2 separate regions of the Homo sapiens genome follow, and region 2 is linked to region 1. Evidence: fine-mapped expression QTL. A gene starts in region 1. The other region holds a variant in brackets. All regions are shown on one strand. Distances are between the middles of the regions.

Evidence for each region.
Region 2: its variant is fine-mapped to the expression of NEBL in monocytes (TOPMed, PIP above 0.99).

The regions. Positions count from the first base shown.
Region 1 is chr10:20,890,093-20,905,924 of GRCh38, forward strand. It overlaps NEBL (nebulette), which reads right to left and starts at 7,219. Exons shown (of 28, transcript NM_006393.3): 1 at 7,033-7,219; 2 at 6,866-6,937. The coding sequence starts at 7,113.
Region 2 is chr10:21,203,794-21,219,625 of GRCh38, forward strand. It overlaps a transcript of NEBL not described here. Among named protein-coding and RNA genes, the nearest start is that of NEBL-AS1, 38 kb to the left of the region's middle. The variant T/C (reference allele first, on the strand shown) is at 8,592.

The DNA of each region.
Region 1 (15,832 bases):
ATAAACGGCTATCCAGCACAGGATTGCAAAGATGATGAGGCATAGTGAGGAAAGACCATTCTTTAGATAAGCGAGGGTCCAGTTAAGCATCAACACCAGGCGTGCTGGCTACGGGTGATGGGTCCTGTTTACCCAGCCAGCCCAGTGCAATTAGCAAGCATGTGCCATCTCGCTCCTACAAGTGTCCTGGTGTTTTGTTGCTTTTAAGCCTTGACACATAAGCCTTTGGCCAAACAGAAACACAGCTGCCTACCTCAAGGTAGAAAATAAGTAGTCAGCATGACAGATGTGACCAATTAAGAAGTAGAGGCGAAATTAAATGGGGATCACTATTACCGTTATTACCTAGACATGCTTGATTAGAGGAAGAGGCTTAAATTGTGGCCAACGTGGGCTTCCTGTTACTAATTCCTCCCAATTTATGAGCACCCATAGGCTTCCCAATCCTCCTCCTGAGCGCAGAGAAGAACTGAACCTGCCCAGAAAGCTTGCTATGTGGTGGAGATCATTCCAGAAGGCCTTCTTGCTGGAGATCAGCAAGACAAAGCCCAGTGAGGCTTAGCTAAACCTGCTCATCTCTTCTCTGCAACTCACAAGTCAAATGACTCACTCTCTTCCCCTTTGGGGATAGGCCAGAATTGTTATGCCGGGGGAAGACCCGGGTGGATATTTGAGCCCAAAAGAAGTCAGGAAATGTGGAGAAGGACCTAAAGTATAATCACACTGTCACACTAATTGCTGCACAATCTGGAAACTGGGAAGGCAAAACTATGACTCATTGAGAAGATGCAGGTAATTTGCTAAAAGTTGTATCACTCTGTAATATGCTCGTGTTTATCCTCCCAAGACCATAAATACTTAAACTGAAAAAGTGTTCCTGTTTCAGATGATAAATTATATGTTCTCCCTAATTATAACCCAAAAGTGGAGCTGAATTGTATATACTACCTGGTTCTTAGAGGATGTGAATAATATTGATGTTATACACTAATGGTACATGGAGATTTTCCCATATGCAAGCCTGATTTGACGGGCATTACTTAACCTGTGGTAGAACTAGATACAGATTAAGTGAAGTTATTTCAAAATCCCATATTTCACTGCTGTGACTCTTGGATATCAGATGCCTACCACATTAAACATTTGCTTTATTCATGAAATCAACACGAGAACATATTTATCTTATCTGAGCACTAAATTACTTTTTTTTCTTCTCAGAGATTAGCCATAATTTTAGGTTCCTGCAAATCACCCTCCTCAGCCACTAGTAATTAAACTGTTAATGGCAGTATGATAAATAGTAGGCTATTTTGATCATATGGAGAAAAAAGTATCTCCGTTATATAATTAAGTGTGAGAGAAAATAGCCTATCATTAGGCTTAAGTTTGACTCATTATTTTTATCTTTTGCCACCATCTATTCCCCATCACATTCACATTCTTCACTGCAGTGGTATGTGCTTGTGGCTACAGCCTCCTGATAAAGTCTGACACATGCAGAACGTTCAGGACAGGAGGACTGGATAAGGGTGAGGTATTTACTTCTTCTGTTAGGCAGACAAATAGCTCAGTCTTAATTGTAGACTCTATTTTTTTTTCTTGGGTCTTTATTAAAAAGATACACATATTTGTATATTTTAAATGAAGGTGTATTTAAAATTTAAGATCCTTTACAATTGTACAATTCAAGAGAAATTGTACAATTTGTTAGAAGTCACACACAATCATGTGTGATTTCAAGTGAATTGTGCAATATGAATGACAATAAGCAAAGAATGTTAGATTTTTAAATACATAAGGAATATTTATATAAATATTAGATACATATTAGTAGCCTTCCTACACCAAGATAACAGGAAATGATCATTGAAAGGGAACTATATTGGTCAATGAAACAAATCTTAGGTAAAATAAAAATCACTGAATAGATTGCTATATTTTATTACAGCCATGTCTACATCTTACAATTTCGGGTTGACACCATCTATTGGATAGACTGGCCACTCCCATTATCTCCTATTAAAAGAGCCCAGATGGATTAATGAGAGCAGCCAGGCTCCTGCCCAGCCCCAGAGGACAAGCTGATCTAAACCAGGCATGGTCATGCCATCCAGTGTTTGGCCTGGGGAGCCACACTCTCTGTGACTTTAGTGGAAATCTTCCCAGAAGTGCTTCTAGTGTTTCTGGTACAAAGGGAGAGATGCTGCACAACCCTGTGACATTCTGTCTTCCACATTTTTCTTTCTCAATCAAAGGGAAGGCAGCAGCAATGATGTCATTACCAAGGAATAAGCCACCATACTAATGACGACAGAATAGAAGGAAAGGAGCCTGGGAGACTGATAACACCCATAGTACCCAGCCTGAACTACCTACCTCCGGGCTTTATATGTGGAGGCTGGGGAAACAAAAACCTACTTGTTAAGCCATTGTGTTAGAGTTTTCCTGTTTTTACAGTCATCTGCACTCCTACCGAATACACAACCCAACACCAAAAGACAAAAAGGGCAAAATTGATGACTTTATGATCATTAAGATGTCCCAAACATTGACCTTCTCTTTTGCCCTCACCCACAAATCCCACGTCTCCATTACAATTAGGATGAATTTAGTGCAGGGTCGCTTCCTCCTCCTGGCCAAGTTTGTTTGAATGAGTATGAGATTAGCTAAAGGCTGAAATCGGATGACAGACATGGAGATGTTTGCGGATCTTTCCTTTCACAAGAATTCTTAACTGAAAGTATCTGGAAAGGCTCTTCACAAGTGAAATCATACAAGTTAAATTCAATACACCCTGGAAGGAAAAACAATGGCTCCATCATTATTTAACTGGGCTGGACATAGCTAAGATCACTCTCCCAGGTTTTCTGATACCATCTAAGCTTTCTCTGGAGGAGTAACCACAGAATTTAATGTTTTTGGCATTGAAAGGATTTACCCACAACAACGTTCATTTGCCTGGAAAATATTCTTCCTGCTGCCATGCAGATGAACACCCTAAACAGCCTTGAACTAAACACTGAGAGGCTGCATGCAGATGTGGTCCACCTGCTCTGCAGAAGGCTCTTTCTGCCTAATCTACAAGAAACATACAAAAGATTCCCTTTTGCCCAATCTTTTTTATGACTCCCCATCAGAAGACTACTAGATCCAGGATTCTGAATGCTCAATAGAGAGGATAGGTTTAACTTATTCAAGGGATTGATTAGATAATGTTAGGTTAGACTAACAGGAATAAATATGACAGAGAGAATATCTGTGAAAATATATCTGAGAAAATAATAGTATTATGTGATTAACAGAAAAATAAAAGAGGCTGCCTCAGAAGACCAGCTGTTCTTCAAGACTGGGAAGTGAGTTGTGCAAAGAGGAACCCCATAATGTGGGTAGAGCAAGTGCAAAGCAGAAACTAGGTGGGGGGAGAAAGAGAAAGAAAGAAAAATGCCTTATACTGATGCCCAAAGTGAAGCCACTTGACCTGAAAAACGGACATTTCTCTCTATGGAGAATTCTAAGCAGTGCAGGCTTCCTAGGGCTGATCTCTAGGCCAATCTTGCTTAACATTTCTATAAAATTGTCTGACAAGGGGATGATATAGCAGTGTCTACAGGTCTGCTGACTCCAAGCTGTCTCAGTAAGGGAAACGGCAAACTGAGATGAACTTCAGAAGTTCTCAAAGGGCCAGGCAAGAGGGCAGAAAACTACAGATTAGATCTAGCCCTAGTGTGGTTAAAATAATTCAAACTATTATTTAAAGATGATGGGTCCTAAGCTATCAGCTACAGGTCAGAAATTAGGAATGAAATGGCTCTGATGGTCTACAGATTATCAAGCTGATCTAACAGCTTTCTGCAGCTCCCAAGTCTAAGAAACTCTTCATAGCATCATAAAGGGTGCTAGAAGCTAAGCAAAACATCATCCTGCTCTACACGTGATCTAGACCGTCCACATCTGTACCACTCTGCACAGTTCTGATTATTACATATTGGTTATTAAGGATATATGAAAGCTGGAAGAAGTCCAAAGAGTAACAATTAGGCTGCACCATGAAGAGAAGTCCATGAAACCATCCCTCTCATCTACAGAAACGAAGCAGGGCCAGCCCGGTGGCTCACACCTGTAATCCCAGCACTCTGGGAGAACGATGCAGGAGAATCACTTAAAGCCAAGAGCTTGAGACCAGCCTGGGCAACATAGTGAGACTCCATCTCTACGAAAAAGAAAATGAAAATTAGCCAGGCATGGTAGCACACACCTGTAGTCCTAGCCACTTGGAAGGCTAAGGCTGGAGAATCACTTGAGCCCAGGAAATTGAGACTGCAGTGAGCTGCAGTCACATGACAGAACTCCAGCCTGGGCAACAGAGTGAGACTCTGTCCAGAAAAATAAAAAAGAAGAAGGAAGGAAGGAAAAAAAGGAAGAAAGAAAAGAAGAGAAAAAGGAAAAAAATCTAAAAATTAAATAAGTATCTTAGCAAGTATAGAATTCTATTCGGAAGCAAAATGTGAATGTGTATACAGATATAAATTAAGCCAGAATAGGCCGGGCATGGTGGCTCACGCCTGTAATCCCAGCACTTTGGGAGGCCGAGGCGGGCAGATCACGAGGTCTGGAGATCGAGTCCATCCTAACTAACACGGTGAAACCCCGTCTCTACTAAAAAAAAAAAAAAAAAAATACAAAAAAATTAGCCGGGCTTAGTGGCAGGCGCCTGTGGTCCCGGCTACTCGGGTGGCTGAGGCAGGAGAATGGCGTGAACCCAGGAGGCGGAGCTTGCAGTGAGCCGAGATCGTGCCACTGCCCTCCAGCCTGGGTGATAGAGCGAGACTCTGTCTAAAAAAAAAAAAAAAAAAAAAAATTAAGGCAGAATAATCATGTCCTAAATTTAAGTAGTACATTCTACCATGCCACAAAAATCTGTAATAAACAGAAAGTATGCCTATCTGTTTCATTTTACCTACGTGGGTGTGAAATGTATGGATTTAGCTTTTGCATAATGATAAAGGCCACCACCCCTCACAACATGTTGGTTTTAAAGTCACTGATAGACAATCTTATCCAAAACAACTCCAACCAAATCACCTACTAACTACAGTTACCACTTTAGTCCTGATGGTTTATGTAACACAAGTTAGCTCAGCTATAATTGCACTTCAATAAAAATATATCAAAGCTGGAAGAGGTTAGGAACTCAGGGTTTTAGTTGGTAGCATTACTACTAATAATAGTAACATAATAATAATAAGGCGAAGAACAACATTTCATGGAAATCTACAGGGAGAGATAACTTGGCAGTGTAAAGAGGGAGGCCTCTGTGTTCAACTATTACTGCCTCTGCTTAACTGTGTGACCCAGGCAAGGTACTGAACCTCTCTGTGCCTCTATCTCCTCGCTTCAGAAATGAGAAAAAGCCTAGCGCCTACCTCGCAAGCTGCAATCCCTGGCACACAATAGTCACTAAATCTTAACTGTTGCCAATAGTGTTATTGTTGTTGTTGTTGTCATTGTCACTTATTATTACTGCAATTTACAGAGAACTTTCACATACAATAGCTAATGACTATTAAGTAATAGCACAAAGAAATACTTAATTTAAAGGGTAATTACATCACATGTCAAGTATATGGGAAAGGGTATGATTTCCACCAGCATCCTTTGTGCTTGCCTTCTGGTTTGTCAGAAAGAGCCAGTCATATCTAAATTGTGATTGGATGGATGTAAAAGGAAGTAACAGACAGAGTAGTTAATAACAGCTAACATTTATGGAGTACTCACAATGTTCCAGATAGTTTATTCAGCATTTATATGCATTACCATTATTTAATCTTATTATAAATGTTACAGCTGAGGGATGGAGCCAAGCCAGGTTCCATAACCTTCCCAAGGTTACTGGGGAGTCAACCCAGGCAGGTTGACTTTGGAGGATGTGCCAGACCACTACCCTCCTGCCCAGGACTGACTTCCGTTAGAAAACAAACGTGCAAAACATTCTGATCATTTTGCTTATTATCAACAACAGAAACAACCAGTATTGTGCTCATCTCTCTAAATGAAGACACAGGCACATATTCACTTTACAGGAGTTACCCTTTCTCTGGACCAGCAATCCTCTTAGAACCGCTAATGAGGATCATCTAAATTCTCATCCCTGGTGAGCAACATTTTTCCTTGTACTTCTTGAATTCTAGCTTACATATTTAACATAAAATTATATGTTCAATCATTCAATAATTCTGGGATTCCCTTAAAGTGTAATATCAACCAATCCCAGTTACTAAAAAATGTCACAACAAAAATACCCCTTGCACTAATATCCTTGCACTAATATCAGGGTTCTTAGCAAGCAGGTCAGTAATCAACAAATCCTGAATTGTAAATAAATATTATATGCATATATATATATATATATATATATATATATATATGCATTTTCCTGTTCTGGAAGACAAGTCCATTCATTAGATTGTTCAGAAGGCCCCAAAATGTTAAAAAAATGACTATTCATTTAGATAGAGGGCCTCCCAAGACAAATTACATCATTATATTCATTTTAAAATCTTTGGGGGTTCTCAAATGGAATAAATACTGCAATTCAATGCCTTATGATTTCATGCCAGCGTGACAGCAAAACTCATAAGGGACAGGATTCTGGATTAAGAATGAGGAGACTTGCTCTAGCAGAAATTCTCTGTATAGGTGACCTTGGGGAAATCACTGAAAATTTCAGGACTTTGTTCCATGATCTGGAAAGTGACTGTGTTTTAAAAGGTGATTTCAGGGTTTCCCCCACAGCTCTATGACTCTATAACATAATAATACCACAGGTGCAATGCAAAATAAGACAAAAATTACTCCAGCCACTTACATCGCTAATGAGTTCCGTGCATTTTCTGGCCAATTCCATGCTTAAGTCTTCAATAACAGGCTTATAGAAGACCTATTTGAAAAAAAAGAAAAGAACAGAAAGAACATTTTTCTCATTGTCAATTTAGAGGAACAAACGCTGGTCTGAGTATGTGTTTTCTCACTCACCTGGTCTTCTTCATTTTCTTCTTCCCCTATCTTTTCTTCTTCAGTTTCATCTTTTATATCCTCAAATACAGGGACCCTCATTTTTACCCTTTAAAATATTTATATTTTTAAAATTTACTCATGTGGCGTCCTTTTCCATACCACAGTGCCCTTGAGATGCTGACGTCTCTGGTGCTCTGGCAGAAATGCCCTTGCCCAAGCCTCAGCCCTATTTAGCCCACACTTCACTCCTTATCTCAGTGGTGTGTGAGTGAACAGAAAAGGATCCCAGAGGTCTACCAGGCTGGCCTCACAAGTGGAAATAACATATTCTTAAGCAAAATTTGATTTTATGAACTTTTAAAGTCAACATTTTTTCCACTGGTTAAGAAATCCAAAAGAAAAAATTTATTTATCTTTTACTAATTCTATTCATTCATAAAAGAGCATAAAAAGGACTTAGAGATTCTGGGAAAACTACTCAGCTCTAACACTCAAGATAGCACAGTCCAAAGCCTGTTATCTCAAAGATTCCTTGTCTCTGTCTAAATAAAGCTTTCACTGGAATGTCAGACTTCCTTCTGACTTGGGGTAGTGAATCTGGATCATTCAAACTCATTTTGTCAACCTAAATTATATGTTTTATCAGACATACCAGTACTTCTCACATCCTAAAAAATACCCACTTTATATTAGCTGATTAGAGGCTACTTATTTATTATGAAAAGCCCTTTGAACCACTTCAAAGAATCTATTCTGAGTTAATTATGACTGTTAGTATTATACTGGCGAGTATGGTATTGTATTAATTGTAAACATCATTAAACATGAGAAGTTGCAGTTAACATATGTTGATACATAATTTAACAATTCTGGAAACATCGTTTCAAAAATCATCATCATCATCTTTGAATTCTGCAGTTCTACTCATCATGTCAATTTTTACAAAGTCATTGGTGATTTGCATTATTACTCAATGGGCACCCCACATTCAGAAAAGTTTGGAAAAATAAACCATCACAATATTTATAATGTAGTGTATGTCCTTGGTTACGTAAAACCAAGGTTAAAAAAAAATTTCTCAAAACAAATATTTTAATGTCAATTCAGGCAATTCCAAGACTCCCTACAACTCACAATTTATTAATCTGGTTATGTAAATCCTAGGGTAAATTAATTTTACCAAGTCATAGCACATTAGCATTGGGCATAAAAAATACCCTACACTGAATAGTAATACTGATGATACAAAATACAAATTTATTAAAAATAGTATGTCATTCTAAGTAGCCAAGCATAATTTTTTCTCTTGATATCATATCTAGTTTTCAATGTACTGTAAAAAAAAAATGCCTTGGCCTTACCTAAACTGAAAATCCTGACAAGAAAAACATTCTACACAGTCATCACGTATAAATTATTTCTGAAATTGTGTTCCATGAGGCAAAAGTTCCACAAAAGATTCTGGGGGAAAAAAGCAGGTTTCTTAAACAAATATGTTTGGGAAATCTGTACCCCAGTCTCTGTCCCTGCCACTTAGAGATCTACAAGGCATATTGACATACTAGAAGTTCTGAGAAGACCTTCAACCAAAAAACCTGCTTAGGCTTGCTTAACCTCGTGTTCCCCTGAACACAAACCTGTTTATCTCATCAAATCTAATCCAATTTAATCTAATCTACCTACCTACCTATCTACCTATCTTTTTTTTAATCATACCCACTACCCCAGAAAACTAACACTCCTCTGTGAAATATGACCGACTGCTTAGGGAAACATTGCTCTATTCTCCTAAAATGTTGTGTTCTAGAAGGAGCTGTTGGTCTTGAACTAGTTTTTGATACAGGCTAAATTAATGGTATCACATATCCTGTTCACCAACAAAATACCAAAAAGAAATTGCCTCAAGCATGCTGAACTTGGAAACCACAACTCTAAGATTACAGCCATATCATGCTGGCCCAGTGTAGTGGATTCCACAAGGACATTCCTTGTATATTTTATTTGTTCCGTAAAAGGAAAGAATGTGTGCATTCCAATTATTTCCCTCAAGTCCTCTGCTGGCCAGAAGACTATTCTAATATTCTATAGATCTATTACATTATCTTTATTTGGAAATAGGGAGGAGTAATTTCTGTAAACTTGTCTTGCAAATTTCTAGGAGTGTAGGGAGAAAATCTTGCCAAAACTGCCTGAGACACACCTTTTGGCTCATATTTGAGGAGACAGTACTGGTGTTACTCAGGGTGACACCTATTCCCCAAGGTGAATTACCTTCATCAGGCTTGCAGTGCAGTTATTTCTCATTTCCCATCACGTAATATGTTCTTAGGGACTCTTCACTGTGCTGCAAGAAAATAAGCTGTTGAGATTTAATGCACAAACTTTTGAAAACAAAAACCAAACACCACGTGCAATGTGAACACAAATTTTCCATTTGAGATTCTAGAATCAGAATTTCAAGCCAAAGGGATCCTTAAGAAATCAATACACCTAAAGCCCTCTCTTTCACAGATGACAAAATGAAGGCTATGAAAAATTATGTGTCTCATTTACAAAGCCATTCAATGAAGCACTAGGATCAGAACCTAACTAGAGACCTGTGTTCATTTGTTCAACAAATAAATGTTGTTATGCCAGGCACTGTGCTTGGTGTTAGAGATAGAATGGTGAATAAAATATTCTTCATACTAAGATAGAATTGGAAATAAAATACTCATCACTCAACACTTGCTGGATGAAGTCTTTAATGGATCGTTTGGCAAGCTAGAGACACCATTACTTTTGATTGAATACATCTTTTTTCCTCTCACCTATAATATAAAATTCATGCAAAGTTTTCTCTAAAAAAGTGTTAAGCCCTGCACTTCATCACAGCAAAGTTTTCTTGTCAGTAGCTCTAAAATATGACATGGAGAATATGAAGAAAGTGTTCCTCATGGACAGCTATCATGTTTCAAAATCCCCTATCGACTTTTCCAAAAACCAAGCTTAATGTATTTTAATAGATATTTTCACCTTGGGTTGCTCCAAAAGGCAAAATCTCTGTAGCTGCTCATAGCTTTTACTTATTGGGCACTTCTTTTATGTTGTTTACTTTTCTACTTTAGTACTCTACGCATGCCTTGATACAGAATGAGACCAAGAGACATCACTTATGGCTAAACTCTCAAAGTCCAGGTCTGGCTCTGCCATGTCCTCTAGGGCAAATTATTCAACCCCTCACTACCTCTAATTCTTCATAGTTAAACAGAAAAACTGAGTTGACAGAAGTTAATAAAAAGAAAGCACTGGCTGGGTGCGCAGTGGCACACGCCTGTAATCCCAGCACTTTGGGAGGCTGAGGCAGGCAGATCACAAGGTCAGGAGTTCGAGACCAGCCTGACCAACATGGTCAAACCCCGTCTCTAGTAAAAATAGAAAAATTAGCCGGGCATGGGCTGGGTGCGGTGGTTCACGCCTGTAATCCTAGCACTTCGGGAGGCCAAGGCAGGTGGATTGCTTGAGCTCAGGAGTTCGAGACCAGCCTAGGCAACATGGTGAAACCCCATCTCTACTAAAATACAAAAAAAAAAAAAAAATTAGCCGAGTGTGATGGCAGTAGATGGGATTACGCCTGTAATCCCAGCTACTAGGGAGGCTGAGACAGAAGAATCGCTTGAACTTGGGAGGCGTAGGTTGCAGTGAGCCAAGATCCTGCCACTGCACTCCAGCCTAGGTGACAGAGTGAGACTCCATCCCGAAAAAAAAAGAAAAAAGAAAAAAATTAGCCGGGCATGGTGGCACACACCTGTAATCTCAGCTACTCAGGAGGCCGAGGCAGGAGAATCACTTGACCCGGGAGGCGGAGGTTGCAGTGAGCCAAGATCGCGCCACTGCACTCCAGCCTGGGTGACAGAGCGAGACTCCCTCTTAAAAAAAATAAAAAGAAAAAGCACCTTAAAAATAGTGGAGCCCCTCACAAACACAAGCTTTTTTTCAACCACCAATAAAGGTACACAGTGATGTGAAAAACATTTGGCATGAAAAGGTCTTCTCATTCTCTGTGCCATTAATATCCTTTTAAAGTCAAGAAGGGCCTTCTGCAACTAGACAGCTTAAAGATAAGAGCTCACTTGCTTATTTATAATTCAGAAGTCTTCTGATCTTTTGATAGCTTGATGTTTACACGTAAGCAAATGTATTTCCTTAGCAACTGTCAGGTGGGTAATTCAAGTCTCAGAGACACAGCCGTGGCCAAGGGAACGTATCTGTGCCACCATCTGGAGTCGTGCAGTGCACAACTGTCTTCACCTTCCTTGAGGTCGCCTATGACAAGACTTTCTTGGTTTTTGACTGTTTCACACTTATTTCACTTTTTTCTCCTTTTTTTCATAATGATAGAACATGTACTTTTCCTCAACATGGTGATACATGATTTAAAAATAAAAATTTATAATAAACAATTAAAACAGATCCAAATTCAGTTCTGAGTGGGGGGAAAAAAGTACAGAGATAAACTGCTTTTCTTTTAACTTTAAAAATGAATTCAACATTTCTTATTATAAAATATTCATTCCAAATGGTTAGGTGAAAGAAGAATTTGTTTGCCTGATTTGTTTCCCTGCCATGATGGTTTTTTCACACTCATTTTTTGTTGCCTGGTTTTTGTTTTGATGACCGTCTTCCGGAAGGTTCCTGCTTCTCAGTTGAATCCCTAGTCATTCCATCTTTGCCTCACCTATTTACTCAGTAACTGGTATCTTCCCAGAACAGAACTTTACTGATGGACGAGGCAAGATAAATCATTTCTTGAAAGAAGAAATGTAAGCACTCTAGGACAATTTGTCTCCTTTATAAAAGAGAAGAGTTTTGCTTAATATTGGTCCAATCAACTTTTACAATTTAGAATTCATGAACATATTTTCTCCTTTTTAATAGCTATTTCATTACTCTTTAATAATCAGAAATCGAAAGAACACAAAGCAACCTAAACATGTGTCACCATGACCAAGTATGCTATTAAGATTTAATAAGGTGGCCGGGCGCGGTGGCTCACGCTTGTAATCCCAGCACTTTGGGAGACCGAGACAGGCGGATCATGAGGTCAGGAGATCGAGATCATCCTGGCTAACACTGTGAAACCCCGTCTCTACTAAACAAAATACAAAAAATTAGCTGGGCATGGTGGCGGGTGCCTGTAGTCCCAGCTACTCGGGAGGCTGAGGCAGGAGAATGGCGTGAACCTGGGAGGCAGAGCTTGCAGTGAGCCAAGATCGCACCACTGCACTCCAGCCTGGGCAACAGAGCAAAGACACTGTCTCAAAAAAAAAAAAATTTAATAAGGTATATTCCATATGTATATTCCCCTTTTCACAGATGTAGATCCCACTCACAAATGAGAGCTACATAGTTAGATGGATGTTGGAGGAAGTGAAAAACAAGAAACTGGAAATAGTATGGGGCACAACAATTTCCAGGTTGGGTGTGGTGGGGAAGCCCAAATTAAAACGATGTACTCTGCTTATAGAGGGGGCAGGAAAGTATTCTCAATGTCTACATTAACATAGCGCCCATTGAGCTGAAAGTCTTCGGTTTCATTTACAGCTTGAGACATTAGTTCAGTTTTCATAGCAATTAAGCTAATACCATGATCACTCCCGCAATCTTCACCACCAAGAGGAAGAAACCTAAGCTCTTCTTGGTCTGTATGTGGCTTATACCCAGAACCAAAGGGTCAGGCAGGATCAAACAGCTTGACTCCCACAGAGTGTCCCTTTCCTAGAGTTTTATGTGAGATGTGTCAGGAATAATTGTGAAAGACTTTGAAATGGGCACATAGAAAACAAATTACTGAGTGTTCCCTTCAGGACTATACTGTTCTTTCATTATCTTTGAACTACTTCACGATTCCATAAACTGTTGAAAACTGATAAGAATGAGAATGATTCTTATCCATAGAAATGCAAATTATAGTAGCCCCCAGACCTTATCCATAGAGGATGTGTTCCAAGCCCCCCAATAGAAGCCTGAAAGTGCAGATAGTATCAAACTCTATACATATTATGTTTTTCCTATACATACATACCTATGATAAAGTTTAATTTATAAACTAGGATAGTAATGGCATGAAAAGACATTTCTCAAAAGAAGATATACAAATGGCTCACATATGAAAAAAATGCTCAATATCACTAATCATCAGATAAATGCAAATTAAAACCACAATAAGATACGGCCTTACCCTGGTCAGAATGGCTATTACTAAAAAGTCAAAAAACAATAGATATTGGTGTGAATGTGGTGAAAAGGGAACACTTATACACTGCTGGTGGGAATGTAAATGAGTAAAACCTCTACGGGAGACAATATGAAGCTTTTTTAAAGAACTAAAAGTAGAGCTACCATAGGATTCAGCAATCCCACTACTGGGTATCTACCCAAAAGAAAAGAAGTCCTTATATCAAAAAGACATCTGCATGTGTTATGTTTCTCACAGCACAATTCGCAATGGCAAGGATACGGAACCAGACTCACTGGACATCAACCAATAACTGGATAAAGAAAATGTGGTATGCATACACCACGGAATACAACTCAGGCAGAAAAAGAACAAAATAACGTATTTTGTAGCAACTGGGATGGAGATGGAGGCCATTATTCTAAGTGAAGTAACTCAGGAATGAAAAACCAAATACTGCATGTTGTCTGTCACTCATAAGTGGCAGCTAAGCTACTGGTATGCAAAGGCACATAGAGTACTGTAACGGCCAATGGAGACTCAGAAGGGAGAAGGGTAAGGGATTAAAATCTACGGATTGGGAACAATTACACTACTCAAGTGACAAGTGCACTAAAATCTCAGACATCAACATGATAAAATTCATCCATATAACCAAAAACCACTTGTACCCCCAAAAACCATCGAAATAAAAATAAATTTTAAGATGTCATAGCAAGAGAACAACTAGTAATAAAATAGAATAATTATAACAAAATGCTATAATAAAAGTTATGTGCATGTGTTCTCTTTCTCTCTCAAAGTATCTTCTGCTGTACTGACCTATTTCCAGACCTTAGTAACTGAAACCTCAGAAAGGAAAACCATAGATAAGGGAGCATTACTGTAGCTGTGTTCTTGGGAAGGCAATTGAGTACTGTCCATGAGACAGACCCTTTTTGCACCTATTTGTAAATGCATTTCAGCATTCCTTACTATGCATTTATATGTGGTTCTTCAGATTCACCTTTGAACCAACTGTAAGGTCTTATGGGTACCCTCATTTATTAATGAGTTAAAAATCTTTGAAACGTGTTTATGTTTTATGAGAGTCATGACTTTACCACTTAAAAAATTCTTTAATGATGCAAGTGATTTGATTACCCTCATTTCTTTAACATTCAGGAAAAATAGAAAGAAAAAAGGCATTACTGGAGAAAGCCCACCTCTCAATTGTGAAATTTAGCTGTAAAAATTTCTAGCATTTATTGATATCAGCTTTTGGTTTTGTTTTATTTTCAGGTGGGGTCTCATTTGACTACTGGCAAATGTCACATGTGTGCTTGTACATATGTACATTCACACATGCAACACACACACATGTAACAAGCAGAGTTAACTCACCACAGCCGCAAGTTCTTGCTTGAAAAGCATAAAAGGCTTCAGTAAATGCAATGACTTAATTACTTCTCACATCTGGAAAAACTTGAATATGAGAGTGGATTTATTGAAGAAGCTCTTTGCTTGGCTGTCAACACCGTATCAAGAGCCAGAAAGAGAGCAGGCTTGATCACTCTTGGCAATTCTTTAACCCATTCAGAGATAGATGATCTACCAATTAATTCGTAACATGTCCTGTTTATGTGATTTATGAATTTTATGAAAACACAGCAATGTAAATAGTTTCCTAGTAATTTATGGAGAAAAGCTGTTTTTGTCATGTTTCTAGGAGGAAAAATATCACACATTAAAATGGGGAAATAATGAAGAAGTTTTTACATTCAAGGAAACAAAGGAAAGGGTTTTGGGGGTTGTAGAGCATATTGCAAACAACCATTAGAACTATAACTTACACAAACACATGAAAAACTAGATGATTTGGCACTTTTTGGAGAAAGTGTAATATAGTGCTCCTAAAAGGGAATAGGAGATTTATATAAGCCCATAGCAAGAAGATTTAGCAGAAACCAAGTGTATTAGCCCATTTTCACATTGCTATAAAAACATACCCGAGACTGGGTAATTTATAAATAAAAGAGGTTTAATTGACTCACAGTTTTGCATGGCTGGGGAGGCCTCAGGAAACATACAATCATGGCAGAAGGGAAAGCAGGCACTTCTTACATGGTGGCAGGCAAGAGAGAGCCAGCAAGAGCAGGGAAAACTGCCTTATAAAACCATCAGATCTCATGAGAACTCACTCACTGTCACAACAGCAGCATGTGGGAAACTGCCCCCATGATCCAATCACCTCCTTCCCTCAACACATACGGATTACAATTGGAGCTGAGATTTGGGTGGGGACACAAAGCCAAACCATGTCACCAATAAATGACCAGATCTCCCCTAGAAAAGGATACTGAAAATGGAATTAGTCAAAATGATGATAAGGCATCCAAAGAGCATTTGCAAAGACCCAGAGACAAGAGTTGAAAGAACCAAAAGTTCTATGTCACTGGAGCAATACAATAGGACAGAGATGAGGGAAGGAGAGGAGCTGAGGACCCTTCAGCCTCCAGGATGTCAGGGGAGAGCTACATGACGGAAATGTATAGAAATCACTTATCCTAACACAAAAAGCTGAAGTCAGTTTGAACCATGAAGCCTTTGCAGTTATAACAA
Region 2 (15,832 bases), 310 kb after region 1:
GATGGGTCTGAACTCGGGATGACTGTGCCAGAGACTTGCTTTTCCAGGCCCCCTTGCAGCCCGTGTGCAGGCAGGTACTATTGCCCACCCCTACCAGACCTGACTCAGAGCACAAGAAGCAGGGTCAGTGGAGTGTGCTCTTTCCCTGACGTCAACAGCAGCTTTGTTTCAGGAATAAGTCCATTGGAATAAGCCTATCTACCCAGTCAGATTCCCCAAGAGGCAGACCCGGAAATCAGGCTTTGAAGACAAGCTGTTTATCGGAGATGTGAGCTCAGGAAACATGGGTTGAAAAGTCAGGGAACAGAAAAATGTCAGTAGGGGTCTTCAATGAACAGGTTACCCCTGTGAGCACCTGAACTTCAGTCCTACTGGGGTCCTCTGGGAGATGGCTTAGAACAAGCCTCAGAATTAGTTACCCCCACTGTGGAGGGAGAAATCCAAACTGCTTGTCTTCTGTTATGGACTGAACATATTTGTCCCCTCAAAATTCATACGTTGGAGCTCTAACCCCAGTGTGACGGTATTTGGAGTAAGGAAGTAGTTAAATTAAAATTAAATGAGGTCATCGGGGTGAGTCCCTGATCCGATAGGATTAATGTCATTGTAAGAAGAGACAGTAGAGACCTTTCTCTCTCTCTCTTTCTTTCTCTCTCTCTCTCTCTTTCCATGCGCACATGATGACAGACCATATAAAGATACAGCAAGAAGGCAGCTGTCTGCAAGCCAGGAAAAGAGCCCTCACCAGAAACTATACGGGCCAGAACTTTGATGTTGGACTTCCCGCCTCCAGAACTGTGAGAAAATGGATTTCTATCGTTTAAGGCTTCCAGGCTGTGGGATTCTGTTAAGGAAGCCCTAGCAGAGGAATACATCCTGTGATTCTCTTTTGTCCTGAGGGCATCATCACTCCATGACACCCAGCCTGCCCTGCCTGGGGTGGGCAGAGCATTGTCAGAGGCAGCCCTCAGGAGAGAATCACAGGTACTTTCAGAATCACAGGTGACTGAGGAAGGAGTGGTGGGTGCCAAGCAACTGCAGGTGGGGCATTGACAGAGCCTGCTGCACTCCCCGTCATGAAACCATGACATTTAGCATTCTGGGGCAGCAGACGTGGTTTTTTTCTGCTGCATCATTTTCATCCCTTTTCCTGGCTGCCTAGCCTTGCACCAGGGTCCTGCCCTCCAAGGATTCAAAGAGCTACTATTTCATAAACTACTTTCCTGCTTCAATCAGTCAGAGTCCATTTCTGTTGTTTGCAACTAAGAATGCTCACTGTGCACTCCAAGTTGCATCTAGGCATGAAAACAAGAATTTATCAGTGTTATCTGCATCTTCCAACCCAATATTACAACAATAAAGGTGTCTAATTCATGACTGAAACAAGGCAAATTGGTACATGACCCTGAAGGGATACTATTTACAAAGTAAGATTACAATATCTGCCCCAAATGTGTAGCAAAAGCCTTAACATTTTGTTTACCATGTAGTCCAGCAGTTCTATTTCTAGCTAATTTGTCCTAAAATAATTGGACAAGAGCTGAATGAATGTGTATTGTGATGAACACATAATGATATTTAGGGCAATGTATATAATGTCAAAAATAAGAAATCAAATGTCCAAAATCAAGAGAATATTTAAACAAATTACAGTGTATCTTTAGTGGAATACTTTGCAGCTATTAAAAGTGACATTGCAGAAGTATATTTTTAATATGAAAAAATACTCATGATGTAAGCAAAAAAACAAATTACAGAACAATATAGATCCCATTTTTGTAAGAAGAAAACTTATTACATCTTGGACAAAATTCTGAAAGAATATATACCAATATATTATGGAAAAAAACACAATTACTTTGGCACCAACCTATTAATCAAAGCTAAATTTGGGTAGTAGAACAAAGGTGATTTTTATTTTCACCTTATATTTAGGTATATTTATGATTGCTCTATAATAAGTATTAGATACTAACCAAATTTTTACATAATAATAATAATACCTATTCTACCTCATTCACAGGGATAGGTAGGAAAGTGTGATTGTCACTAAAAATTTCATAAACATGCAGCTAAGGAAAGCCTCCATAGAATAAGATATATGATAATCTCCAAAACAATTTAGCATATAATTTCACAATGCATCAGTAGGACTGCTATGATTAGTATCAGCAGGCACAAAAATATCGTTAAGATTATGCATGAACCATTAGTCATCAGGTGCCAATTAATATGGGAATTCACTCAGTACTAAAAGTACAAACCTAAGATTGTCTTCAGCATCAGCTTCATCAGGATGTTCTGGAATAAAACCAATTACAAGAGACCAAAAAGTCCTGGCCAATAAAATGATCATTGGATTATATAAAATATTAGTAACGCAATGCATCTTGCTAATATCCTAATCGCTGTTAGCAGGAACACTTTTAAATCCTAAGGAGACAGAATTAAGTAAGGAGCTCTGGCAGAAGAATTAAAGCAAATGTATACATTGAATACTACTAAAATAAGTTATTTTGTCCTGGCAACTCTAATGCTTTGATAAATAAGTTACTCAACATCTTACAGAACTTGGAATTTAACATGTGCTAGTGAAAATTCAGAAGTCGTTCCTTTTACATGCTTGTCACATGGCCAAAATATTTTTATCTCAAAAATAAGTTGTAGCCATGAATTTAGCCCCCAGGGGCTGAGATCTAACCAGGGGGGTAGAAACTGTGGATTGCTCCTCACCCTCCCTTACTGTAACTGTAATAGGTTCATTGCCTGCCCATTGCTTATGGGAAGTCAACATACCTAGACACTGGGTTGCAGCAGAGAAAAAGTTTTGTAGTAGGGCCACTGAATGAGGAGACAGGAGGAACCTCAAATCTATCTCACCAAGGAGTTTGAGGCTAGGGTTTTCGAGAGTTTGGGAGTGGGCTGAAGTATAGAGATCGTTGACTGGTAGAAGAGTGCCAGAAGAAGTCGTGGGACAGGGAGATGAAGAAGCTGTATTCCCACGCCAATCCCATTCCTCTGTGGGGATTTTCCAGCTGGTTGTCATCAGCTGTTTCACTGGAATTCAGGACCAGAAAAAAACATAACTAAGTAATTCTTAAATAAAAGCCTTACAATTCCAATGTTGGGGATCCTATCTTAAGCAAAAGCCATATTATCATTTTCTTTTTCTTTCTTTTTTTTTTTTTTTTTTTTTTTTAGACAGAGTCTTGCTCTATAGCCCAGGCTAGAGTGCAGTGGTGCAGGCTCGGCTTACTGCAACCTCTGCCTCCCAGGTTCAACTAATTCTTCTGCCTCAGCCTCCTCAGTAGCTGGGATTACACACACCCACTACCACGCCTGGCTAATTTTTGTATTTGTAGTAGAGATGGGGTTTCACCATGTTGGCCATGCTGGTCTCAAACTTCTGACCTCAGGTGATTCACCTGCCTTGGCCTCCCAAAGTGCTGGGATTACAGACGTAAGCCACCACGCCCAGCCAAAAGCCATATAATTCTAATGTCAGACATCCTATCTATAGGAATGATGGGGATGTGAATGGTCTATATCTAGTACTATGTGACTTTCAGTCATAAGGAAGTGAGTCAAAGTACAGCCTGATTAATGCTTAATTATAACAATATTTCTGCCCAGAATTCTTATTAACTCTATAAAGATGGCATCATTGTCCCCTTTCCAACATCCTAACAAAACCCAGATTTGGTTTTTGTATTGACTGTGCACACACACACAGCCTGTTGTCCCCTCCTTTCTCCACCCTACTTTGCCCTAGAAGCCTGACCCTGCTGGACTACATCATGGGCTCTCATGACCTTGAGCTTCTGGTTGGGTTTGGCCAATGGGAGCCCCTGCAGGAGATCATGGAGCAGGGGAAGGGTAAATCCAGGGTAGTTCTTTCCCTGGCTCCCTCCTTACAGACTGGTTGCATCTCTCAGCCTAAGGTCCTAGCACTGGAAAAGCAGCCCTCTACCCACAGACTAGCTATACCTATGGAACATCTGTCTCTAGGTTCTAGAAACCATTCATTTAAAAAGTGGACAGAAGATACAGGGTCCAATGGGGTGAATCTCAGGATTCTTAACTTGGAACGTAGGCCCGAAGCAGTCTCTCTTATGACAGATACTGTTGAATTAGTTGATCCCAAAGAATCCAGCGTCTCAGTGGTGTCACAGGACCAACAGGTTCATATGTCCACTGCACAGTAACAAACCAACTACACTGAGACAGCAGAGTTTGCAGCAGAGAAAGAGTTTAATGATCACAGGGTGCCAAGTGAGGATATGAGAGGAAAACCTCAAATCCATTTCCCTGAGGAGTTCTAGGCTGGGGTTTTTAAGAAGATTGTGGAGGATAAAGGGCTAGGAAATTGGGGTCATTGATTGGTCAAGGTAAGATGGATGAAATCATCAGGACATAGAAATTGCATTCTTTGATGACTCAGCTCATGGGGGTCCTTCAGACCAGCTAACGTCTAGTTTCACTAGTATGCAGGACCTGAAAGAGTATCTCAAAAGGAAAAATTAATGTCTCATAATGTGCAAGTTGTTGTCTTTAGGGCAGTTAAGGGAACTATAATCTTGTAACAGGTTCTAGCAATTCTGAGGCAATAGGTACTGAACAACTACAAGGAAGAGGTCAGACAGCAGGCTGACCTCATGATTAATGCTGAATATGCTAAAACTTGGTTTATTTTTGTTTCTCTCCCTCCCTCCTTCTCTAATTAATTTTATAAAGTTTATAGGGACAGTTTCAGTGGCTGACACAAGGGAAGTTTATTTCTTGCTCATGTTACAGAACAGTGAGGGTCAGCATGAAATGAGAGGGATCTACTTCCAGAAGTCACCATGAACCCAGGCTGCTTTCTTCCAATGTCTCCACTATTCCCTATGGCCCCTGTTCTTGCTGCAGGTGGGGAGAGCACGAGCAAGGAGCAGGCCTGGAAGTCACATACATTCCTTCCACCCACATTCCATGGGCTGGAACTCAGCCCTACAACCCCACTTAACTGCAGGGGCCTGGGAAAACGTAGTCCAACAGCATGGCAGGGAAAAAGAAAACAGAACAGTTTGGTAAACAACCAGCCAGTCTGCACCTCACCCTTCCAGCAAGGAGTAGCTAGATAAGTCAAGACTGCTCCTGGTAGCATGTGATAGGAACTGAACTATGGTGACTCGGCCAAATAAGGGTGCCCTTTGTTTGTTTTTATACAGCAAGGAATCTGGGAGTAGGTAACTCAGAGATGTTTAAGGAATCCGGCTTCTCCTCCCTTCTTTCTCTGCAATCCTTAAAGTATGAATTCTGTCTCCCAGTTGCAAGATGGTGCCAGGTATTCTGCCCAAATTCCAGGCAGGGGAAAGGTGAAAGGGCAAAGTGCAAATGACAAAAGGAATGTGTCTGACAAGTTTAGTCGCTTTTTAAAAAGACTTTTCTGGAAGCCCCCCTCTCATAGGATGGTCTCTTTCATGACTACACTGCCTTAAGAAAACCTAGGGAAGGGTTGCCAGATAAAACACAGGACGTTCGGTTAAATTTGAATTTCAGATAAACAACAAATAATTTTTAGTATAAGTATGTATGTCCCATGCTGGGTATCCTGTTTTTTGTTTGTTTTTGCTAAATCTGGAAAGTCTAGCCTCGGGAGATGTGTATTTTTTCATGGATACATTGCCCCTCTGAAAAAAGTCAAGATTCTGTTGAAAAGAAAGAGAGGAAAATGGACTTCAGGTAGGCAGCTGGAAGTATATGTCCCAGTGACCACAGGACCCAATACGTGCCAATAGCACATAAGCAGAAGTCTGCAGGATGTGTCTTCCAGGAAGTTTCTCCTATCTCCTGATACAATTAGGCACCTGACCTTTTTTTTTTTTCTTTTTTTTTTTTTTCTTTTTTTTACCACAGTTGTGACTCCTGGAGGACCAGGAGCCATCTTGAGATCACGAGGTAACAAACATGAGAACAGAGGCCTACACGTCAAAGATGGAGAAACAGAAAGATAATCAGTGCCTGGGTCCAGAAGGGATTGTTGCCCTGCTGGGGAAGGCTATCCAGGCTGACACTGTCTTTCCTTGCACTCCACGATTATCCTTGTGGAGCCAGGAACTGGTGTCACGCTTGTCAGGATGAGGGACCTTAGAATTAAACCAAGACCAAAAAGAGGATACAGCTGATAGAATTTCCCCAAAACCAGACCCATTTGGTTAAGCTGACCCTAAAGCCCCAATTGCTCAATACCTCCAGTTCCACGAGCCTCAAAATGTCCTTATTGTTTAAGATCATTTGAAGCAAGGTTTCTGTTCCTTGTAGGAAAAACATCATGGGCAGGGCATGGTGGCTCACACCTCTAATCCCAGCACTTTGGGAGGCCAAGACAGGCAGATCACCTGAGGTCAGGAATTTGAGACCAGCCTGGACAACATGGTGAAACCCTGTCTCTACCAAAAATACAAAAAACTTAGCTGGGTGTGGTGGCAGGCGCCTGTAATCCCAGCTACTAGTGAGGCTGAGGCAGGTGAATCACTTGAACCTGAGAGACGGAAGTTGCAGTAAGCCGAGACTGCACCACTGCACTCCAGCCTGGGTGACAAGCAAAATTCTGTCTCAAAAAAAAGAAAGAAAGAAAAACATCCTAACTAAGAAAACCAAACTCTCCAGTCCAATACATATACTTCTAACAGATTTGACATTTATCTCATTATACAAATATGCAGAAAGAAAATTAACATTAGGCAATATAACATTGCTGCCATTTTTAAGGAGGAATATGTATATTTTTACAAACAAAAATTCAAAGCAAAATCATACAATTAAATGTTTGTGTCAAGTATGTTTTTTCCATATCATTCTATGTATCTTGTAAGGCCTGTAAATAGATTAAAATTTTTGTTGTTACTTATTCCCACTGGTTCTGGAGTCATGCACTAAAGTGCTGCATTTTTAAGTTTCAATAATTGGACTCCTGAGACTCACAGAGAGGAGGAACATACGTTAAGATATCATATTCTATTCTCAACATGTGACTGTCATTATCTTCCAACTCAATAATGCTTATAAATGTACACGCTATGTATGAGCTACTGTAAGTCTTTAAAAAACCTGTAGCTTTACATTTACAGCTATCCTAGCCAGTAGGAGTTAATTTTAGCTGGGTTGCACCTATTGTTTCATGCATGCCCTCTAGGTTCTTTGGAAACACTGTAAAATATTATGACCCAAAAACAGAAAACCATGATCCATATCCTCAGTCACGTTTTCTTTGACATGGGCAACATGTCACAGATTCAGTAGGAATAAAGGCCACTCGCAGAAAGAGGAGATAGACTAAGTCTCGATTTGATCATCCTTATCAATGCTATGTAGGAAAGGAAAGGAAAATCCTGGCATGAAAACAATCAAAAATAGTCATTGGCCGAGTGCAACAGCTCATGCCTGTAATCCCAGCACTTTGGGAGGCTGAGGCTGGAAGATCACTTGAGAACAGGAGCTTGAGACTAGCCTGGGCAACATAGGAAGACCGCGTTTCTACAAAAAAATAAGAAAAATTAGCTGGGTGTGGTGGTGCACACCTGTAGTCCCAGCTACTAGGGAGGCTGAGGTGGGAGGATCGCTTGAACTTGGGAGGTGGAGGCTACAGTGAGCTGTGACCTTGCCAGTCTGGGCAACAGAGTGAGACTCTATCACAAAAGAAAAACAAACAAACAAAAAACAAAACAAAACCCTAAGGTTTTTTTTCTCCTGAGTTAGCTGATGTGTGCAGTCAAAAACCCTCTCTCCAGTTAACTGGAGAAAAGACTGGCCCCTTTAAAGATCTTGCTTCCCTGATGAGGAAAGCCAATGAGCTGCCATCTCCTCTTGAACAGAGATGCCAAACCCAGTTACGTCAACTTCAAAAACCCGTCTGAGTCCTTTTGTAAAGGTAAAATTTTGTTGTGACAAATGTTTGTTGTGTCAATGAAGTTGGCCATTGCCAAGGGAGATCCTTTTGTTGGGGAAGGATCCTCAAACCAGCAGTGATTGTGATGATGGAAACGGATCTGTCGTCATGGCTTCATTCATTCTCCAATGGTAATTGGAGAAGCACAGAATTTCTCACTCATGCTGAGGTCAGAAATCTTTCATAAATGACCTACCAAGTTACTATCAAGTGTGTTTGCTCTTATGTAATGCTAGTAAATACATTTCAGGGTTTTAAATCACTCAATTCTCTCTCTCTCTTCAGATATATATATCTATAAACATATGTACATATGTAAATGTTATGCATATATTATTATTACATATTATACAACTATTACACAGTATACATATAATATATACTATGTTAGATACAGTATATATACAGTATTATCGCTACATCTGAGTGACAACACTATATATACTACATATAATACTGTGTACAATATATGTATAATATGTCAGAAAGATAATACAAATATATGATTTATTATGTTACATATAATATACATATATAACAACTTGTAAATGTATATATATCTGTAATGTACAACACAATCTTTTTAATCTTTCAGGAAATTCACTGAAAATTAAACTGACAAACAAAGATTTCCCAATTAGTGCAATCCTGGCCCCAACTT[T/C]CCTTGCAAAGATTTCGAACACCCAGCGCTAACGTCTGGACAGCGCCTACCCCTCCTCAGAGTGATGGGAGGAAAGAAGGAAAGGCAAGCAACGGCTGAAAAGATGGAAGGAATAAACCAACACTCGTCATTTCTCAAGAGTTTGTGAAACTTCCCATTTTCTGTTAAGGAAGTAAATTACAGAAGCTTCGGTGAAAGGGGTGGAATCACCCGGTTCTTCAGCTTTGCTTAGCTTGTTGGATGACCAGGGACATCTTCAGATTTTTGTTACCACACCTGGCTCCTGAGCCAGGTCCTTCAGTGAGTGCTTTCCAAAGGCCCTGTGGCCACTTGCGACTTCCACTGGCTTCTCGTGTTTCGACACTAGTTTTATTTTTGAAATACTTGCCACTTTTCATCATAGGAAATAGCTGGCTTGACTACCGTTCTCACTCCTTTAGCTGCTGTGTCAATACTTCAAAACATTCAGTCAGTTAACTCGATTCAGTCAAAAATTGTCACAATGTTTAGCATTGTGTTGACAAAGCCTATGGCTTTGGAGAAAATACAGCTCATTAAGTTCTTAGTGATTCTTCATGGTGCAGAGCTACACGGTAGCAGCTACAAATGTAACCAGACCACCGTGACAAAACGAAGGCAATGAATTAATATCGGAGTGCTCACCATGTGCCAGGCACCGGTTGGAATTTAGCCATGTCTCATCTCACTTTATCTCACAATAACCCAAGCCCTTCAAGCTGATGGTTGCCCAAAGTTGGATTGAAATGATAGTTTATTATGCCATTTCTGTTTACTCACTAATACTCAAAGAATGCAGAAAAAGATAAGCTTGACAGGCAAATTTCAGTTGATGGTTCAGTTTCCTTGAACTTGTATTTGGTCTTGTTGCAGACTGATTTGACTCCCTTTAAAAAATCAGAATGTAGAGTGTCTGGGTTCCTGTGCCCAGAGAAAGGACATTAGAGAAGATTCAAAACAGATGGAGATGTAGAGCTGGTTGAGTGCAGGCGGAGGAAAACCGGAGAGGAGCGGAGGACGGGGGAAGCTTCAGTCTAAAGAACAGTGTCTATAAAATGCACTTTCAAAACAACACTGTCTGAATGCCTCCTTGTGTGCAAGTTACAGGGCTGACCAAGAGATTTTTAAGTAACCAGGAGAAGACACTAACTTTGCTAATGAATAGCCAGGAAGTGTTAATGAGGCATTCATGAAGATGCTCTCAGGACTTAGCAATGAGAATGTCCCGAGGCAGGGAACCAGGGCAGGAGAAGGCCTGGGGCGACCTGGGCTTGAGGAGTAGAGTAAATAGAGAAAAACCTTAGAAATGGGTTCTATAGCAGCCTTTAGCTATAATGTAAGTGGAGTTTATATCTTAAATAAATTATTCTATTTTTACTGCAAATATTCCTCTCTTAAAAGGACCAACGAATATCTACACATTATATACCTGCTCATCTTCCATGTTCTGTGCCCAGAGGAAGTCCAACAAGCTCGAGACACCACACATCATTTGCGAGGGAAAGGACAAGGTCTTCCTTAAAAGCAATAAACTGTGTCTCCTGGACTTTTATGTAAGTATCGGCTGGTAAAGGGAGTTGTCACAGACAATAGATTTTCCCCACAATTATAAAACTCAGCAGTTTTGTGTCTTGAATGATGATAATACAGACAGATAATTAAATCTTAACTTCTGTCTTAGTCTTCTTCAATTCTCAACAATGAATTGGTAATTTACTCATGAATTTCATGTATATATATGTATATAATATATATGTATAAGTATATGATATAGATGTATATATATCATATATGTATATCATGCACACACACAAAAGGCAAAGAAAAGTGCTTTCTATCTTATGTTTTTTCAAATTAAAAATTTGTATCTTGCACTTATTTTTAGTGGTATCAAATAAAGCATTCTTTGTACTTTCTGAAGATTTATTAAGACACTAGTAAGCCTTTATGCATTTGTGCTAAGGGAAAAAGGAAGAGAGGGAGGAAGGAAAGAAACAAGAAGAGAAGAAAGGAAAAGGATCTCCTCAGTATAACTACCCCATACACACATGGCACACACATGGCACACACATGCACACACACGCGCACATTACACACATGCACACACATGCACACATGCACATTACACACACATACACACATGCACACACATGTGCACACATTACACACACGCACACATGCACATTACACACACATATACACATGCACACACATGCACACATATGCACATTACACACACATGCACACATGCAAGATTGTTGGGTACAGTGAGGAAAGGGTTTTTCAGGTGCTTCTTTTTTAACTGCTAATTCATGGTATTTACAGAAAAGTCAGAAAATATATAGTATGTAAAAAGGGAAAAAATGGAAATCACTTTTAATTGAAGCTCCCAGAATTAATCATTGTCAGTATTTTTGGCTACACTCCTAATATTAGTGTCTTTAAAGAGAATATCCTGTGTTCTTTTAGAAAAGAATAGGAAATAAATTAAAGGACAGGCCCTGCTGTGTCTCTCTGCCCCCATCTCCTGGAATCTAGCTCCCTTTTCCCTGCCGGGGAGGAGCAATAAACTGTGAAGCCCTCCCTGTGCCACCTGCCTCACCCCACCCTGATCCCTCCGACCCCATGAAGAGATGTCAACTTCCACTTGGCCAGAGTTTTAAATCCACAAAACTTGAAGATTAGAGCGAAATAACTAAAATGAACTTTTAGTTTCTGTCTTCTTACCTAACATACAATTTGGTTAGATTTGCACAAATTAGTGGCATGTGGTGGCACGCACCTGCAGTCCCAGCTACTCAGGAGGTAGGGCAGGAGGATTTCTTGAGGCCAGGAGTTTGAGGCTGCAGTGAGCTATGATCACGCCACTGTACTTCAGCCTAGGTGACAGGGCAAGAGCCTATCTCTTTTAAAAAGAGTTTTTAAAAGATCTGCACAAATGAAGAATATGTGTTTGCAATGGGCTGTCTTATTATGGGCATTTCATGGTGCTCATAAAACTCACATTTGGGAGGATTCTCTGTAGCATCTGTATTCAGGGAGCAAATTAAGCAAAACAATACAAACTCATGAATGCAAAATGTAGCACAAAAGTAAATATTCAGAATGAGAAAAGATTTCACAACAAATAACATATCTTTTAAAACTAACAAATACTGCAAGTGCCACAAAAGGCAAAGAAAAAAATATAATCTGTTTATTAACTGGCTGACCCACTACCATAATATTTTCCACAGACTAGTTTTTTTTGTTTTGTTTTGTTTTGTTTTTGTTTTTGAGACAGGGTCTTACTCTGTCATCCAGTCTGGAACGCAGTAGCACAATCACAGCTCACTGCAGCCTCAACCTCCCAGGCTCAGTTGATCCTTCCACCTCAGCCTCTTGAGTAAATGGGACCATAGGCATGTGCCACCATGCTTGACCAGTTTTTGTTTTTGATTTGGTTATTTATAGAGACAGGGTCTTGCCATGTTGCTCAGGCTGGTCTTAAACTCCTGGGCTCAAGTGATCTTCCTGTCTCAGCCTCCCAAAGTGCTGGAATTATAGGCGTGAGCCACCGCACCTGCCCTCCCAAACTAGTTTCCAGCTCTACTTGTTCCTCCTTCACTTCCTACTTCCCAGCAGGGTCAGTATCCTAAGACAGGTTCACATCACAGTTCCGCCCCTGATTCTAGGCCGTCATTCATAATTCCAGTCAAGTTGCCACGGTATGCAGTAGGGTACTGCTGAAACCCATCCTACGTGGGAAAGCCAGCCACGAGTTGTCTACAGAGTGACTCTGAACCACCAGAACACATCCCACTAAACTCTCACTAAATATACACCCCCAACCTGACTTCCCCTTAGCCACATATCCAAGTGCCTGTGGCTACTTCAATGCCACCCAACTCAAGGAGAATTAAGACAAGGAGAAGTCAAAAGGGGAAGACACAGTGGTCCTAACCAGCTGCAATTAAAAGATCACACTTTTTGGCCGGGTGCAGTATCTCATGCCTGTAATCCCAGCACTTTGGGAGGCCCAGGCGGGAAGATCACGAGGTCCGGAGTTCAAGACCAGCCTGGCCAACATGATGAAAACCCATCTCTTGGGCCAGGCGCAGTGGTTCAAGCCTGTAATCCTAGCACTTTGGGAGGGCAAGGTAGGCGGATCATGAGGTCAGGAGTTCGATACCAGCCTGGCCAACACAGTGAAACCCTGTCTCTACTAAAGACACAAAAATTAGCTGGGCATGGTGGCACACACCTGTAGACCCAGCTTCTTGGGAGGCTGAGGCAGAAGAATTGCTTGAACCCAGGAGATGGAGGTTGTGGTGAGCCGAGATCGCACCACTGCACTCTAGGCTGGGCAACAAAGCAAGACTCCATCTCGAAAAAAAAAAAAGAAAAAGAAAAAAGAAAAGAAACACGAAAACCCATCACTACTAAATATACAAAAATTAGCCGGGTGTGGTGGCACGTGCCTGTAATCCCAGCTACTTGGGAGGCTGAGGCAGGAGAATCGCTTGAACCCAGAAGGTGGAGGTTGCAGTGAGCCAAGATCGCGCCACTGCACTCCAGCCTGGGAGACAGAGCAAGACTCAGTCTCGAAGAAAAAAAAAAATCATACTTTTGCTAATTTTACTAAACTACTACCATAGGAACACAATACCCCTGGGAAGGGGCTCTGCACTGAGGGGACCTGATGTGAGTGTCGTTAGCTTCAAGGTAAGTCCACCTCTGCACGCACAGTTGTTGGGGAAGACTTCTTCAGCAGCACCCAGAGAAGCTGGCATCCCCCCAAAATCTAAAACAGATGAGAGGGTAGTTATCAGGTTAAGTATACAGAATTTACTTAAGAGGTCATGGAGAGGAATCCAGAAGTTTCCTCCAAATTGAGCCACAGCCAGAGACAGAGAAAGCAAAACAATCATGAGCCCAAGTCACAAGGGACAGTGCTCCAAATTACAGGCATAGACTTGCCAAGGAGCTGCTTCTCACAGGGGAAACTCTATCTGGTTTGTTTCGGAGTGGGGAGCAGCAGCTATTTATTTATTTAAAGGTGGTGAACAGCTCTCCCAAATATTGCCAGGTGGCCAGCAAGTTCTAAATACGACTGGCTTCCAATAATTTGAAAACTTTAACATTGATAGCATCTGCTGTTGAGAAAAAAAAGTGTAGGCTTTGGGTGCCACACAACTGTGGATTCAAATCCAGGCTCTGCTAGTTACTAGCTATATGACCCTAGATAAGATACTTCGCTGCTTGGAATCTTGGTCTTCTCACCTGCAAATGGGTTTAACAATATTTACTCTATAGTATTACTTGAAGATTCATGGTATTTGTGACAATTCTGCCACAAATGAAATTTTCATCAAATAGTAGTCATTATTATAAAGCTGTATTTTCCATTTATTTTGGCTTGGCACAAAGATGATTCAAACCTCATCTGCAATTTGTGCATTTCCATCTGGCAGCAACCAACAAGTCAGCTAAGATGGCGACTTACTCTAAGGGTGCAACCTACAGCAAGCCTGTCCATCACAGTACTAGCCAGCTAAAGTTTGTTACAAGCTTTCAGTCTGCTGCGGAGGGACAAGCTGGACATCATTTGGGGCTCTGAGAGTCTTGAGTTCTGACCTGGTCGGTGAGCTAGTGTACGAATATTCCACATACAAATTCTTTGGCCTCATGGATACTTTTCATAAAGCTACCGGAAGAAATCCTGACACCCAGGCAATCACCAAGCCAGGCCACAAGTACAGGGACAGATATGGGCTGCTATCTGTAGGCGCAAGAGCCTTGGCCCTGGAAAGGGCCACTCATCCCAACATCCTGTGGCGATCGTCACCAGGCAGGTGGGAAAAGACACAACACTCCCCAGCCCCACCGTTACCATCGATAAAAGTAATGTTTGCAAAATGCATACCTAACAATTTAGGACAGTTCAGGTCTGCTTGATAGTGTTCTTTAATTTGCCTGTTTAAACCATTCTACAGATAGTTTCATGACTGTCAGATTACAAAAGTTACAATGCAATGATATTTGAAGACTCTATGTGATGGTGTGTCTTCTTTCTCATAAGATAAAATTTTTTTATCTTTGCTTTATCTTATAAAGGAGTTATATATCAGACATGCTGTGTGGTATAATAGATGTAAAATAAATTATTTAAAAGAGGAAAAAATGCAGGAGTGTTGAGGAGGAAAAACTTTTCCTCTGCCCATGGAACACAAAAGTTCCATGACTTGGGTCCTTCACATTTAACTGATAAAAGACAGATTAAACAGGAGAAATGGAATACACAATTTATCGATATCTACATGCACTGGGAGGTCACAGAAAAGAAGGAGAACCCAAGGAAGTGATCAGACTTGGGGACACATGCCATTGTAACAAAGGAAAAAGGGTTTGGGCTTCAAGGGAAAATAAATTGCAGCAAAGTGAGTAGGAACTATATGGAGAAAGCTAACGGGAGATAAGGGTTATTTTCGTAAAATCTGTTTATGCACATTCATTTTGCTGACCCTCCAACTTCCTGGTACATTTGCTCTCCTCTTCCTGGTACAGGACAGGGGAAACCTTCACAGACGGAACCTTATGCCCTGCTTTTAGGCAGAAAAGAGGAGAGAAGAGAATGCTTCCTATTTGATTCTCATTGCCTTCAGCTCAAAATAATCCTCATGCCACAGTGGCATATTTTGGGATGGCATACCCCAATCCCCTGCAGGAGCATGTGGTCAGGCCAAGACATCAGCCTTTGATTTGTTATAAATGAAAACTTTCTAAAAATGTGAGTTGGGTGTGTGTTTGATGTGTATTTGGTTTAGGAATAAAGTGAGAAAAGGTATTAATTATAAGTAATAAATGAAATTAAAAATGTATTTTTTATAAGTGAGGGCTATATAAATTACAAAGTAGTCAGGACTGACTTAAAGCCTAGAATTTCTGCTACTAAAATGTATATTTCGGAGGCTAAAACCAACCTATTGACATTCAAGAGTATTGAAGCAAATGTAAATGTGTCTGTACTCCTAGACTCTATTACCATTTTTTTCCTCAAATAAGCTCATTTTGGCATTTAAAAAACAACTGATATTTTTACTCCAGTAGCATGCTGTTTTGATTACTATAACTTTGTGGAACATTTTGAAATGAAGTAGTGTGATGCCTGTAGCCCAAGACTGCTTTGACTATTCCTGGTCTTTTATGGTTTCATATGAATTCTAGGACTGTTTTTTTCTAAT